Homo sapiens: one gene and its partner. The protein of the gene in region 2 interacts with the protein of the main gene of each other region in a pairwise test. Each region holds a gene or a part of one and is shown on either strand. Other genes may lie near its edges.

Region 1 (7,587 bases), about 26 Mb from region 2:
TTTCCTAGTCAACCAAAACATCACGTTGCACGTGACTCTGCTGGCACTGTTGCTTGTGAGGAAATGAACCAACCATCACTTACAGGGTAGGCATCTTTTAAACTGCAGGTCCAAAGATAAAAATAACGAGGGAGGCTGGGCATGGGGACTCACGTCTATAATCCCAGCACTGTGGGAGGCTGAGGCGGCAGGATCATTTGAGCCCAGGAGTTTGAGACCTGCCTGAGCAACACGGCGAGATACCGTCTCTACGAAAAATAAAATAAAAAATTAGCCAGGCATGGTGGTGGGCACCTATAGTTCCAGCTACTCAGGAGGCTGAGGCAGGAGGATCCCTTGAGCCCAGGAGGTCGAGGCTGCAATGAGCCATTGCACCACTGCACTGCAGCCTGGGTGACAGAGCAAGACACTGTCTCTAAAAAATATAAATAGGCCGGGTGTGGCAGCTCACGCCTGTAATCCCAGCACTTTAGGAGGCCGAGGTGGGTGAATCACCTGAGGTCAGAAGTTCGAGACCAGCCTGGCCAACATGGTGAAACCCCATCTCTACTAAAAATACAAAAATTAGCTGGGCATGGTGGCAGGCGCCTGTAATCTCAGCTACTCAGGAGGCTGAGGCAAGAGAATTGCTTGAATCCGGGAGGCAAAGGTTGCAGTGAGCCGAGATCATGCCATTGTACTCCAGCCTGGGGGACAGGAGTGAGACTTCGTCTCAAAAAAAAAAAAAAAAAAAATATATATATATATATATTTTTTTTTTTTTAAATGTATAAATACATCATATATATTTTAATATATAAATATATTATATATATTATATATTTTAATATATAAATATATTATATATAATATATTTTAATATATAAATATTATATATATTATATTTTAATATATAAATATTATATATATTAATTATATATTTTAATATATAATATATATTATATTATATAATAATAAATTATATATTATATTATATAGTAATAAGTTATATATTATACTATATAATAATATAGTATAATATATAATATATATTATAATATATTATATTATATTATATTATATATTATAATATAAATTATATATATTTTATATATATGTTTTATATATTATATATTTTAATATATGAAACAGGGGAACTTCTTCTAAGGAAAAGACAGAATTAAGGCAACAGGCTGATCCTAGTTTACCAGAGAAGAAACTGAGGCCGGGAGCAGGAGCCCAGCTCACTGAAGGGCAGATCCCAAGTCAGAGTCCAAGTCTCCCCACTTTTTTATTTATTTAATTTTTTCTGAGATGGAGTTTCATTCTTGTTGCCCAAATTGAGTACAATGGCACAATCTCGGCTCACCGCAACCTCTGCCTTCTGGGTTCAAGCCATTCTCGTGCCTCAGACTCCCAAGTAGCTGGGATTACAGGCATGTGCCACCACGTCCGGCTAACTTTTGTGTTTTCAGTAGAGGTGGGGTCTCACCATGTTGGCCAGACTGGTCTCAAACTCCTGGCCTCAAGTCATCTGCCTGCCTCAGCCTCCCAAAGTGCTGGGATTACAGGCATGAGCCGCTGTGCCTGGCCTTATGTCTCCCCTTTTGAATTCAGAGCCTTCCCCCGTGTAGTGAGTGCTTCTGCCTCTCTAGCCCTTCCTGTGGGTTCTGCCTGGGCCTGACCTCTGTGAGAGACCTGGCAGGAACAGGTCTGTCAGGCCTTGTGGGGAGTGGGTGTGGGAATAGGTTTTGATACCCAACTTAGCAGGTGATCCTGAGATGGGAGGACACAGGGCTGTTTGGGATGGGCGTCTTAGCCATAGTAAGGTTTGGTTCATATCAAGCAGGGACCACCCATGGCGTCATTTCCAGGCCCCACCTCTTCAGTATGCCATAGAAAACTACTTGGGCAGTAGAGGTGTGGGAAGAAAACAAAAAAGAAAGCTGGGCATAAGTGGCACACGCCTGTAATCCCAGCACTTTTGGAGGCCGAGGCGGGTGGATCACCTGAGGTCGGGAGTTCAAGACCAGCCTGAACAACATGGAGAAACCCTGTCTCTATTAAAAATACAAGATTAGCCGGGCGTGGTAGCACATACCTGTAATCCCAGCTACTTGGGAGGCTGAGACAAGAGAATCGCTTGAACCCAGGAGGCGGAGGTTGTGGTGAGCCGAGATCGTGCCATTGCACTCCAGCCTGGGCAACAAGAGTGAAACTCTGTCTCAAAAACAGACAAACAAACAAACAATAAAAAAACCCCAAAAATTAGCTGGGCATGGTGGCGTGTGCCTGTAATCCCAGCTACTAGGGAGGCTGAGGCAGGAGAATCGCTTGAACCCGGGAGGGGGAAGTTGTAGTGAGCCAAGATCATGCTACTGCACTCCAGCCTGGGCAACAGAGCCAAGACTCTGTCTCAAAACAAACAAACAAACAAACAAAAAAACGCAGGAAAAGAGTGTGTGATGGCTGAAACTTGCAATTTCTCACTCTCAACGAGCCCTGGCCCCAACTAGGTTATTTGGGCTCCCTCCCTAGGTCTCAGGGACCTCTGTTCAAAGTCCTAGCAATCTGGGCCAGGTACAATGGCTCACGCCTAAAATTCCAGCACTTTAGGAGACCAAGGCGGGCAGATCACTTGAGGCCAGGAGTTTGAGACTGGCCTGGCCAACATGGTGAAACCCTGTCTCTACTAAAAGTACAAAAATTAGCCGGGCATGGTGGTGCACCCCTGTAATCCCAGCTACTCAGGAGGCTGAAGCACAAGAATCTTTTGAACCTGGGAGGCAGAGGTTGCAATGAGCTGAGATGGCGCCACGGCACTCCAGCCTGGGCGACAGAGCAAGACCCTGTCTCAAACAACAAAAAACAAATAAAACAAACAAGGTCCTAGCAACCCTACTAACCTGTTATGAAGACTGATACAGGGGCATCACCTGCCCCAATTTTCTGACTCAGGTCAGCCTTATATTCCTACTCTAATCTCACCCCTATCCCCGTCCCACACCCACTATTCTTAAAACCTCCATGGTCCTCCGGGGGCAGCTGTAGACACATTAAGCCCAGGGCTATGGGGCCACTGGAACCTTCTCCAGTGGGTCTGAAAACATCAGCATTCCAGGAGTTGATGAGCCCCTACCTGGGCACCACTCCCTCTTGGGCCTGAGAAGGCCGGGGGGAACCTGCAAGGAATATGTGGAATTCTATATGGTGCCTCTGATACTGCGGTAATGTCAGGGAGAGGTTTGTTCAACTGGTCAGGGCCCTGAAACCCCGATCACTTTCTCATCTCTGCATCTTGAAGGCTAGCAGAGAGGAGGAACCCTGAGCTCTCTAGGAGGTGGGTAGGTGGTGGCAGTACAGACTCCTAGATGTCTAAACGGAGTTGCAGAGAGAAGGCTTTCTCGGTAGACCCTGGAAGGGACTTTTACGGTAGAACTTTCATTTTACAAGCAGGGATAGAGGCCTAGATGGGGACAGAGACGTGTCCAAGGTAAAACAATGGACGGAGGCAGGGCAGGGAGAGGCCAGGTCCTAGACTCGGCCTCAGCACCCCTCCCACACACACATCGACACAGAAGCTGGTCCAGATTTATAATTTAATGGCTGTGCAGATCCCAGTCCCTCATTTCTGTCGCTCACGTGCCCACTGGTCTGGGGTCAGGGTTTTCTGTTCAAAGGCATGGATGTGCGGGAGCTCTTCTGCTAGGCACGCGTTCACCAGCCTGGGGCGAGAGATGGGGTTAGGAAAAGGCCAGCGGTGATCGCACACCCCGAGGCTAGGGTGACCCAAGAGACTGGTGTCCCCAAGGTTGTAGTCCCCAGGCCGTGGGAACACGTACTTGGAGAGAGGGTCTACATCGAAATACTCGAAGCAGGGGTCACGAAGGCGGGATCCTCAAGGTCCCTGAGCCACGCCAGGGGGAGTGCGGGAGTCAGGTTGCAGGGGTAGGGGGAGTGGCTGGGGTTGTGGTACAGGAGCTAGGCAAGGTGCTCCCAGGGCCTTACCTGTGTCTCTGAAGCAGCGGTTTCCCCTCGAACTTGGCCGACACCACCAGGACTCGGAAGCTACAGGAGCAACGGTTGAGGGTCGTGTCCTCCACCTCCTACCGAGCGGAAGAATATGAATGGTGCCGAACCCGCCCCCCGAGCTCTTTTCCCCTTGTCCGGCGGCTCAACTCACCACATGCTCCGCCTCCAGGTCCCGCTGCAGCTTCTCGCGGAGGTATTCGGCGCTGAGTTCCATGGCGGCAGTCCAGCTGGAACGGCAGCCCAGCAGGGACACAACCCCAGCTCGGGCGCCGGCCACGCTACCTTGCTGCCTTACAGGAGCCACTTCCGCTGGAAAACTCACTTCCGCCCTTACTAAGGCGTACGTCAACGCAGTACTTCCGCCCTCAAGCAGCCGGGCTTTCCAGCGGTCCAGGCTTTTCGCGCTTGCCATGTGTCAGCCAATCAGAGCCTGAGGAAGGTGGGACTCGGGCGGAGCCGATGCTGAATGGTACGCGCTCGCCGACTGGACAGCAGTCTGGCTTCCGCGGTCGGACTTCTACACCCGCCTCCAGACAGGAGAGGGGCACGTACCGGCGCTACGGCTTCCTGCAGGCTGCCTCCGGATAGTCCCCGAGAGCTTGTTCCGAAGCAAGCACCCTGCAGCCCTAGCGATCCAGCCCTCCCCTGGACCCTAGGTCACGGCAATCAACCCCCTGCTGTGGTTCCCGAACCCCAAGGCCCGATGGGTCCCGCGGGGGTCGCGGCGAGGCCAGGGCGCTTTTTCGGCGTCTACCTGCTCTACTGCCTGAACCCCCGGTACCGGGGCCGCGTCTACGTGGGGTTCACTGTCAACACTGCTCGTCGGGTCCAGCAGCACAATGGGGGCCGCAAAAAAGGCGGGGCCTGGCGGACCAGCGGGCGAGGGCCCTGGTGAGAGGGGGAGGCCTTCTGTGCCGGGAGGAAGGCGTCCCAGAGGAGGCGGACCCCGCGGGGCACAGGCCTGTTGAGAAGGACCGGCCAGGACTGTGACAGAGGCGGGGCGTCTGTGGTGGGGACGGGGCCTGTCGCAGGGGAGGAGCGTGACGGGGAGGCGGTGCCCGGGGCATCTCCGCGGCGGAACTCAGGGAAGGAGCTAGCTGGGGCGGGGGTGATGATCCAGGCTGGGTTCCAGCATAGGGCTCTTGGTGGGCACGCTGGGGTCGGGTGGAATGCAGGAGAGAGAGGAGGTGGGACAGGTGGGTACCTGGGCTGGAGGCAGGGCCTGAGGTGGGCAGGTGCAGAGGGCTGCACTTCTCGGCTGAAGCCGGGAATGAGGACCCCGCTCTCGGGTGGGATTGGAGGGGACCCGCGGCTGAGGCGCTGGGCTGCGACAGGGACATCACGGTTCTCCTCCTCAGGGAGATGGTGCTCGTCGTGCACGGCTTCCCGTCCTCCGTGGCCGCCCTTCGGGTAAGGAAGGAGACCGGGCAGCGGCGGCCGGGTGAGGGCTTGGGTTCCGCCCCTCGCTCCGAGCCGCCCTGATGCCCCTGTACGCCGCCCGCAGTTTGAGTGGGCTTGGCAGCACCCGCACGCCTCGCGCCGCCTGGCGCACGTGGGGCCTCGCCTGCGAGGAGAGACAGCCTTCGCTTTCCACCTGCGCGTGCTGGCGCACATGCTGCGCGCACCGCCCTGGGCTCGCCTCCCGCTCACGCTGCGCTGGGTGCGCCCAGACCTCCGCCAGGACCTCTGCCTCCCGCCGCCGCCGCACGTGCCTCTGGCCTTCGGGCCTCCACCGCCCCAGGCCCCGGCCCCAAGGCGCCGCGCAGGTCCCTTTGATGACGCGGAGCCTGAGCCAGACCAGGGGGATCCAGGGGCCTGCTGCTCCCTGTGCGCCCAGACCATCCAGGTGAGGTCCCCCCGAGGAATGGATGGCTCTAGAGTCCAGACGACTTCGGATCCAGCTCTTTCTTGAGGGAAACCCACTGACACGCTTTGGCCACCCTATCCCCATCTCTAAGATGCTGATGCTATAGGACTTACGGCCATTCCTGAGCAAAGCAGGCCCTGCTCAGGGCCTTCACCATTTCCCCTTCAAAGAAAAGGTTCTTCCCTAGGCCATCAGTACTCCGCTGCACTCCAGTGTGGTCGACAGAGCATGACCCTCTTTTTTTTTTTTTTTTTTTTGAGATGGAGTCTAGCTCTGTCGCCCAGGCTAGAGTGCAGTGGCGCGATCTCTGCTCACTGCAAGCTCCGCCTCCTGGGTTCACGCCATTCTCCTGCCTCAGCCTCCCGAGTAGCTGGGACTACAGGCGCCCGCCACCACGCCTGGTTAATTTTTTGTATTTTTAGTAGAGACGGGGTTTCACCGTGTTAGCCAGGATGGTCTCGATGTCCTAGCCTCGTGATCCGCCCGCCTCAGCCTCCCAAAGTGCTGGGATTACAGGCATGAGCCACCGCGCCCGGCCCTTTTTTTTTTTTTAGACAGAGTCTTGCTCTGTTGCGGAGGCTGGAGTGCAGTGATCTCAGCTCACTGGAAGCTCCGCCTCCTGGGTTCAAGCGATTCTCCTATCTCAACCTCCCAAGTGTGCCACCACACCTGCCGAATGTTTGTGTTTTTAGTAGGGATGGGGTTCGCCATGTTGGGCAGGCTGGTCTCAAACTCCTGACCTCAAGTGATCTGCCCGCCTCGGCCTCCCAGAGTGCTGGGATTATAGGCGTGAGCCACCATGCCTGGACATGACCCTGTCTCTAAAACAATGTAATGAACTGCAGCTCATTCTTGTGTGCACTTTTCTGCACCCCCTTTCCCTTAACACTTACTATTGTCTGGCATGCTACGTGTTTTCTTGATCTCATTAGCCTCTCCCACCCCAACTGCCACACTGCACTATCAGAGGGCAGCACTTATCACTGCTGTAGAACAAAGTCCTGCACTGAGCCGATGGCCCAGAAATTTTCTTTTTATTTATTTATTTATTTTTTTTTTGAGACAGAGTCTTACTCTGTCGCTCAGGCTGGAGTGTAGTGGCGCGATCTCAGCTCACTGCAACCTCTGCCTCCTGGTTTCAAGCAATTCTCCTTCCTCAGCCTCCAGAGTAGCTGGGATTACACGCGCCTGCCACCGCGCCTGGCTAATTTTTGTATTTTTAGTAGAGATGGGGTTTCAACCATGTTGGCCAGGCTGGTCTCAAACTCCTGACCTCAGGTGATCCTGCCCACCTAAGCCTCCCAAAATGCTGGTATTACAGGCATGAGCCACCGTGCCCGGCCTAAATATTTAATAAAATAATGGACGATGGGTGCCTTCTACTGAGCTCCCGGTAATTGTGAGTGAGTAGAGGACTTGCCCTGGGGACATTCAGTGACCTGCTGGGTGTTGCTGAGCTGTGAGGAAGTTCAGGTCTGGCTGCAGTGGTGAGGCTGTGACTCAATCAATCACTGCTGATGCTCCCAGGACCTGCACCAGCTTAGTCCTAGGGGCAAGGATTTTAACTGTCCACCTCAGTTTCTTCATTTGTAAGATGCAAATAACAGTCACCCCTGCCTCATGGGATGGAGCTGTGTAATGCCCGCAACAGTGCCTGCTGCATAGAGGGGTTGCTGCCAGCTGCCTCTCCCTCCTTGTCTCTTACCTGC
Region 2 (7,987 bases):
GTACTTTTTGTTCAATTGTGCAAACTCTCCAAGTATCTAATGGAGAAGTAGAGAAGAACCCTAATGAAACTGAGTGTGAATGAGGCTCAGCTAGGCTTCTACTTGGGTTCACTTTCTCATCTGTCTGCCTGTCCTGGGATTGACCCTCGCTCCTCTGAAGACCAGCCTGAAAGCCTTAAAACTGGTCAGATGATGGATGAGTCTGATGAGGACTTTAAAGAACTCTGCGCTAGCTTTTTCCAAAGGGTGAAAAAACATGGAATCAAGGAAGTGTCAGGAGAAAGGAAGACACAAAAGGCTGCCTCAAACGGCACTCAGATAAGAAGCAAATTGAAAAGGACCAAACAAACTGCTACCAAGACCAAAACCCTTCAAGGCCCTGCAGAGAAGAAACCTCCGTCTGGCAGCCAGGCCCCTAGGACTAAAAAGCAAAGGGTAACCAAATGGCAAGCAAGTGAACCGGCCCACTCTGTGAATGGGGAGGGGGGTGTGCTTGCCTCTGCTCCAGATCCACCTGTGCTCCGGGAAACAGCACAAAACACCCAGACGGGTAACCAGCAAGAACCATCGCCAAACCTTTCCAGAGAGAAAACCAGAGGTAATTTGTACTCTTTTAAACCAGGGGCTGGAAAACTTCCTGGAAAGGGCCAGATCGTAAATATTTTGGCTTTGTAGGCCACACAGACTCTGTCACAACTACTCAACTCTGCTGTCATAGTGAGAAAGCAGGCGTGGACAATATGTAAATGAACAGGCATGGCCATATGCCAGTAAAACTTTATTTACAAAAACAGGCAGCCAGCCACATGACCGTAGTTTGCTAACTTTTGGTTTGTTTTTATTTTTTAATTTTTAAGCTTAAAAAAAAATTTAGAGCTGGAGGTCTCACTATGTTGCCCAGGCTGGTCTTGAACTCCTGGACTCAAGCAATCCTCGTGCCTCAGCCTCTCAGAGTGCTGGGATTACAGGCGTAAGCCACTGCGCCCGGCTGACTCCTGGTTTAAACAACAGTCAAGAAAAACATAACCCGTGTGAATTTTTCACATGATTGTGTTTGGAGTCCTCTGCTCTTTCAGAATTTCCTATGAAATTCTGTTATATGATTGACATGAGTTACACAAACAACACAATAATGCTGCTTCTCTTGTTTTCTTGAATTTATTCCAAAGTGGGTAAGTTGGACTGGGCCAGCCAATTTGGATAGGCTGCTGAGAGGGCCGCATGAGGACTCTGTGTGGGCTCAAGTCCCAGGAGAATCTTCAGGTTCTTTCTTTCTCTCTCTGAAGACCTTTTAATCTTTTCCTTTGTTATTGTTATTGATTTATTTACTTACTTAGTTTTTAGAGACAGGATCTTGGTCTCTCACCCAGGCTGGAGTGCAGTGGTGCTATCATAGCTTACTGCAGCCTTGACCTCCCAGGTTCAAGCAGTCCTCCCTGCCTCAGCCTCCCGAGTAGCTGGGACCACAGGCACCCACCACCGTGCCTGGATAATTTTTTAACTGTTTAAAGCAGTTTTCTTGCCCTGCTGCCCTTGGTATACTGAGCTATATGCTTACTACACATTCTTCATGCAAAACTGAAAACTACCCTTGCATATATAATACACCATGGGCTCTCTGAGCTCCTGAGTTCTGTTTCTAAATTTCCTTTGCCCTCACTTCCTGATCTTAATAACCTCTCAGTAGAGTGGTGGTAGAGTCTCAGGTCGCATAGACTACTGGAAGGCATCAGCAGTGTTGCCTCACCAACTTTACTGGTCTCTCGTGCTCTTTGCCAGTCGGATGAAATCTATGCATGGTTCCCCCAAAACACGTATCCATGCGCGTATCTGCAAAACTGGCACACAACTTCATGGGGTTCATGGATCCCCACTGAAGATCATCCGTGGATCCCAAGTTAAAGAAGAACTGATCTAGGACATAAACCTTTGTCATTAATATTTCTTTAATAATAGCTTTATTGGGGTATAATTGATATTCCATAAAATTCACCATTTAAAAGGGTATGGTTCAGTGGTTTTTAGTATATTCACAGACTTGTCCAACCACCACCACTACCTAACGTTAGAACAGTTTTATCATCCTAAAAATAAACCCCATGCTCATTAGCAGTCACATCCCATTCCCCTCCTGTTATTGATATTTATGTCTATATTGCCATAAACAAAGAGGTTACCAACAAGCAACCAGTCCTCTTCACATTTGTGAGTCAAACCTAAACTAGTTGATAAAGGACTCTTGAAACTTGCGTCTAACCTGTATCTGGTAGAAAAGTCTTTTATTTCTCCAGCTACAACAGATGGTTGTGAATATTTTCCTCCTTGCCAGAGAATGTGCCCAACAGCGACTCCCAGCCTCCTCCTTCCTGTTTGACAACAGCAGTGCCAAGTCCCTCCAAACCCCGCACAGCACAATTGGTCCTACAGCGAATGCAGCAGTTCAAGAGAGCAGACCCCGAGCGTTTGAGACACGCTTCAGAAGAGTGCTCCCTCGAGGCTGCGCGGGAAGAAAATGTCCCAAAGGATCCTCAAGAGGAGATGATGGCGGGGAATGGTATGATGAGTGTGTTTCTGTCTTCCACACAGAGATAAGTTAATACAACTCTGAGGAAGGGAGGCGGGAAGGAATCAGCATTTGTTGAGTTTCTTCTGTGGATAGGCTCTCTGCTTGATGTTTTACCTTTGCCACTTCACTGGATCCAGCCAGAGAATGAAGAGTCTCTGGGATCATTTCCCACCTAGCTTCCTTGATAAGGTACCGTTTTGTTTTTTTTTCTGAGACAGAGCCTTGCTCTGTCACCCAGGCTGGAGTGCAGTGACATGATCTCAGCTCACTGCAACCTCCGCCTCCCAGGTTCAAGCAATTATCTTGCCCCAGCCAGTGGGATTACAGACGTGTGCCACCACACCTGGCCAATTTTTGTATTTTTAGTAGAGACAGGGTTTCGCCAAGTTGGCCAGGCTGGTCTCGAACTCCTGACCTCAAGTGATCTGCCTACCTCAGCTCCCCAAAGTGCTGGGATTACAGGCGTGAACCATTGCACCTGGCCCTCTTCCTTTTTTTTTTTTTTTTTTTTTTTTGAGATGGAGTCTCGCTCCGTCACCCAGGCTGGAGTGCAGTGGCACGATATTAGCTCACTGCAAGCTCCACCTCCCAGGTTCACGCCATTCTCCTGCCTCAGCCTCCCGAGTAGCTGGGACTACAGGCTCCCACCACCACGCCTGGCTAATTTTTTGTATTTTTAGTAGAGACAAGGTTTCACCTTGTTAGCCAGGATGGTCTCGATCTCCTGACCTCGTGATCCACCCGCCTTGGCCTCCCAAAGTGCTGGGATTACAGGCGTGAGCCACTGTGCCTGGCCTCCTTTTTTTAAAAATTATGACTTTTTATTATGAAAGCTTTCCCTTTCAGTTTTTTCCTTTTAAAAAGATAACCCTCAGTATTCACAAAGAACTCTTCCTTTCAGAAAAGGTTTTTTTGTTGTTGTTGTTTTAATTACAATGAAGCCAGGCATGATGGCTCATGCCTATAATCCCAAAACTTTGGGAGGCCAAGGCAGGAGGACTACTTGAGGTCACAAGTTCGAGACCAGCCTGGACAACATAGTGAGACCCCCATCTCTACAAAAAAATTTTAGGGGCCAGGCGTGGTGGCTCACGCCTGTAATGCCAGCACTTTGGGAGGCCGAGGTGCGCAGATCACAAGGTCAGGAGATTGAGACCATCCTGGCTAACACAGTGAAACCCCATCTCTATGAAAAATACAAAAAATTAGCAAGGTATGGTGGTGGGTGCCTGTAGTCCCAGCTACTCGGGAGGCTGAGGCAGGAGAATGGCGTGAACCTGGGAGACAGAGCTTGCAGTGAGCCGAGATTGCACCACTGCACTCCAGCCTGGGCAACAGAGCAAGACTCTGACTCAAAAAAAAATTTTTTTTTAATTAGCTGGGCATGATGGTGCACAACTGTAGTCCCAGCTACTCGGGAGGCTGAGGTGGGAGGATTGCTTGAGCCCAGGACGTTGAGCTGCAGTGAGCTGTGATTGCATCATTGCACTCCAGGGCAACAGAGTGAGACCCTGTCTCAAAAAAAAAAAAAAAAAAATTACAATGAATCCCCTAATCCCCTATACCTCAATCTAGATTTAACAAATGTTAACATTTGGCCATTTGTTTATGTCTTTATAAATATACATTTTTTTTTTTTTTTGAGATGGAGTCTTGGTCTGTCTCCCAGGTTGGGGTGCAGTGGCGCAATCTCGGCTCACTGCAAACTCCACCTCCTGGGTTCAAGCCATTCTCCTGCCTCAGCTTCCAGGAAGCTGGGACTACAGGCATGCACCACCACGTCCAGCTAATTTTTGTATTTTTAGTAGAGTTGGGGTTTCACCATGCCGGCCAGGCTGTTCTGGAACTCCTGACCTTGTGATCTGTCCACCTCAGTCTCCCAAAGTGCTGGGATTACAGACGTGAGCCACCGTGCCTAGCCAAGCGTACATATTTTTCTTCCATATTATCTGAAGGTAAATTATAGACATTAGGATCCTTTACCCCTAGATTCTGCTGCATAACCACAATACCATTAGCACGCTTAATTCCATAATAGTGCCTGGCGTCCAGTTCAAACTCAAATTTCCCTGGTTGTCTCAAGGTTATTTTTTGTAGCTGGTTTCTTTTTTTTCTGAACAAGGATTCAGTAAGTTCACACACTGCATATTGCTGTAGCTCAGCAGTATCCTAAGGTCTAGATTCTAGAATAGTCCCCCATTTCCTTTTGTTTTCCATGACACTGACTTTTTTTTTTTTTTTTTTTGACAGAGGCTTGGCTAGAGTGCAGTGGCACAATCTCGGTTCACTGCAACCTCTGCCTCCCAGGTTCAAGCTATTCTCGTGCCTCGGCCTCCTGAGTAGCTGGGATTACAAGCACCCACCACCACACCCGGCTAATTTTTTTGTATTTTTACTAGAAATGGGGTTTCACCATGTTGCCCAGGCTGGTCTTGAACTCCTGAGCTCAGGGGATCTGCCCTCCTCAGCCTCCCAAAGTGCTAGGATTACAGGTGTGAACCACCACACCCAGCCCTATGACACTGAGTTTTTGAAGAGGCTAGGCTAATTGTATTATAAGATTTCCCACTTTCTGGATTTATTTCTTTATGGGATCGTTAACTCCTTCCTCTAACCATTGGGTTGCCCCACTCTGAGTAGATTAGAGGCTCATTGGCTGCAGGTGAGACAGGGTGGCGACAGTGCCCCATAGCTGCTGTGTACTTGGTGTGGCACCGGCCCAATAAGCGTAATAATGCCAGGTGCTCCTGTTCTCCATCCCCAAAACAATATGGATTCTCATCTCTGATGAAAATATACAAAAGGAAAAGAAATAGGAAGAAACCATTATCGGCAGACCTACAGCTAATAAGTATGCAGGATCTTGGCATTGCATTGCAGATTTCACTGCAGTAGCACGGAGGAGTCTCAGGCCACCCCAGGGTCCACAGCAGGCAGTGATTTGATGTCCTGCCGAGGCATCAGTCCTGGACGCACATGTGAGTTGCAGAGGAGGCACCCAGCTGGTGTGAGCTCCGCCCCTGCCCAGCATTTGACTCAGTTCTCTCTGTATCTTCACATCACACCCAGCAAGTGCTCAGAAAGAGATAAACCATTTGTTTGTTAAGAAACCAAACCAGGCTGGACGCGGTGGCTCACGCCTGTAATCCCAGCACTTTGGGGAGGCCAAGGCGGGCAGATCACCTGAGGTCAGGAATTCAGGACCACCCTGGCCAACATGGTGAAGCCCTGTCTCTACTAAAAATTAGCCAGGTGTGGTGGGCACCTGTAATCCCAGCTACTCAGGAGGCTGAGGCAGGAGAATCGCTTGGACCCGGGAGGCAGAGGTTGCAGTGAGCTGAGATCGCGTCGTTGCACTCCAGCCTGGCGACAGAGTGTGAGACTCCATCTCAAAAACAAACAAACAAACAAAACAGGGCACCAAAATGAAGGTGTGCTGTTTTGCTGGCCTCAGTGGCAGGCACTGGTAGGCCACAGCCATGAAGAACTTGGGGATTTATGAGGCGTTCAGGGCATATCCCTTGTGAGTGACAGGGGTCTGCTCCAGCAATATCAGATGGGCCACCCTGGGAGCCATCTCAAGACCAGAATCAGTCCATTCTTGAGTCTGATGCTAAGTAAGAGATGCTGCCTTTTAAACGCCAAAGGCATTTCACTCTGCCCTGGTTTTATCATGGGCAGTAAAAGGTCAGCAGGAAAGGGTGAGTTTTGAAGAGAACATCTAGCTTTGTTGGAATATGAGCCTTGTGAACTTGCAATGCCCGAGGTAGCCAACTTCAGCAGAAGTGGGAAAGTTTAGGTCCTTGCTACTCAGAGTGGTCCTGTGCTGCCAGCATCGCCAAGCCTGGAGGCTGCTAGAAATGCGGAGAGTCTCAGGCTGCACCTGGACCCCTTGAATTTGAATCTGAGTGTCGACAAGCTTCCCAGGTAATGCATATCCATGTTAAAGTTGGAGACGGCTGTTCCCGGAGTGCTGATTAGTGCCCAGTCTCACTGGACAGTGTCCAAGTCACCAGCCTGCAGAGTGGAGCTGGGTTCTGGTTTCTTTGCGTTCCACCTGCTCCCCATGGTCTGCAGGAGCTGACAGAGCAGAGGTCTGAGGGTGAGCTTGTCTTTGGAGTTTATTCTCACGGATCTTTGGTGCTTCTCCACAGTGTATGGGCTTGGGCCCCCTGCCCCAGAGAGCGACGCTGCGGTGGCCTTGACCCTGCAGCAGGAGTTTGCACGGGTAGGAGCATCGGCACATGATGATAGCCTGGAGGAAAAGGGTTTGTTCTTCTGCCAGATTTGTCAAAAGAACCTCTCAGCCATGAACGTGACCCGAAGGGAACAGCATGTGAACAGGTGGGGGCAGCTTGGGCCGTCGCCTCTCCCGTGTATGTGACCAGAATCCCCAAGCACCCCAGGGCTGGAGTGCGGATCTCCACACCTTACCATGACAACAGCACCTCAGCTTTGTTGTCAACCTACCCCTTTTTAAAAATAACTTCGTTGAGATACAATTCACAGAACATATAGTTCACCCATTTAAACTGAACAAATCACTACTTTTGGGATATTCACACAGTTGGGCAACTGTCACCACAATCACTTCTGGATTATTTTCATCACCCCCAAAAGAATCCCCACACCCATTGGCAGCCACTCCCTATTGCCCCTCTCTCCCCTGACAACCACTAATCAACATTCTGTCTGGATGGATTTGCCGATTCTGAAATTGCACAGTTGTCCTTTTGTGTCTGCCTTCTTTGACTTAATATGTTGTTTTTGAGGTTCATCCATGTTGTAGCATGGAGCAGGCTTCATTCCTTTTTATGGCTGAGCAGTATCTCATTGTATGGCTAGACTGTGTTTTTCCCATTCTTAGATGAGGAATATGACCATGGTTTATCCTTTCGTCCATTGGCGGACATTTGGAGCATTTCTACCCTTTGGGATTGTGGATAGAGCTGCCGTGAACATGGGTTTCATGTATTTGTTTGGGTACCTGCTTTCAGTTCTTTGGGGTCTCTACTTAGGAGTGGAATTTCTAAGTCATCATGTAACTGCATTTAATCTTTCCTTGCTTTCTTTAGCCAACTTTGCTGACAGATACCTAAGTGTAGTGTCTAGGGGCTGACTGCCGGGAGACGGAGCCAGGCTGTGTAGAGGGGATTGGCTTTGGGGAACTTGCTTTGACCACAGCACGTCTGTGTTGACCTGGACCCACATTTGCTCCAATCCACATTCCTGGGGAGGGTGGTTCTCCTGTATTGACTGTTTTCCTTCAGGTGCTTGGATGAAGCTGAAAAGACACTAAGACCTTCTGTGCCTCAGATCCCTGAGTGCCCGATTTGTGGGAAACCGTTTCTTACCTTAAAGAGCAGAACCAGTCACTTGAAGCAGTGTGCTGTGAAGATGGAGGTTGGCCCCCAGCTCCTG

Evidence for each region. The genes of interacting proteins can lie anywhere in the genome.
Region 1: the proteins of SLX4 (region 2) and SLX1B interact in binary tests that used the Homo sapiens proteins (3 or more experiments, as listed by UniProt).

The regions. Positions count from the first base shown.
Region 1 is NC_000016.10:29,450,029-29,457,615, forward strand, and holds the start of SLX1B (structure-specific endonuclease subunit SLX1), read left to right. Parts: upstream 1-4,504; 5' UTR 4,505-4,714; coding exon 4,715-4,902; exon of another isoform or gene 4,903-4,936; intron 4,937-5,062; exon of another isoform or gene 5,063-5,369; coding exon 5,370-5,421; intron 5,422-5,515; coding exon 5,516-5,857; intron 5,858-7,587. Other genes in the region: BOLA2-SMG1P6 protein, read right to left, coding at 3,988-4,047, 4,163-4,423; BOLA2 (bolA-like protein 2), read right to left, coding at 3,654-3,704, 3,988-4,047, 4,163-4,423. UniProt on the Homo sapiens protein: Catalytic subunit of the SLX1-SLX4 structure-specific endonuclease that resolves DNA secondary structures generated during DNA repair and recombination.
Region 2 is NC_000016.10:3,601,041-3,609,027, reverse strand, and holds part of SLX4 (structure-specific endonuclease subunit SLX4), read left to right. Parts: 5' UTR 1-63; coding exon 64-598; intron 599-2,329; coding exon 2,330-2,554; intron 2,555-6,720; coding exon 6,721-6,910; intron 6,911-7,836; coding exon 7,837-7,987. UniProt on the Homo sapiens protein: Regulatory subunit that interacts with and increases the activity of different structure-specific endonucleases.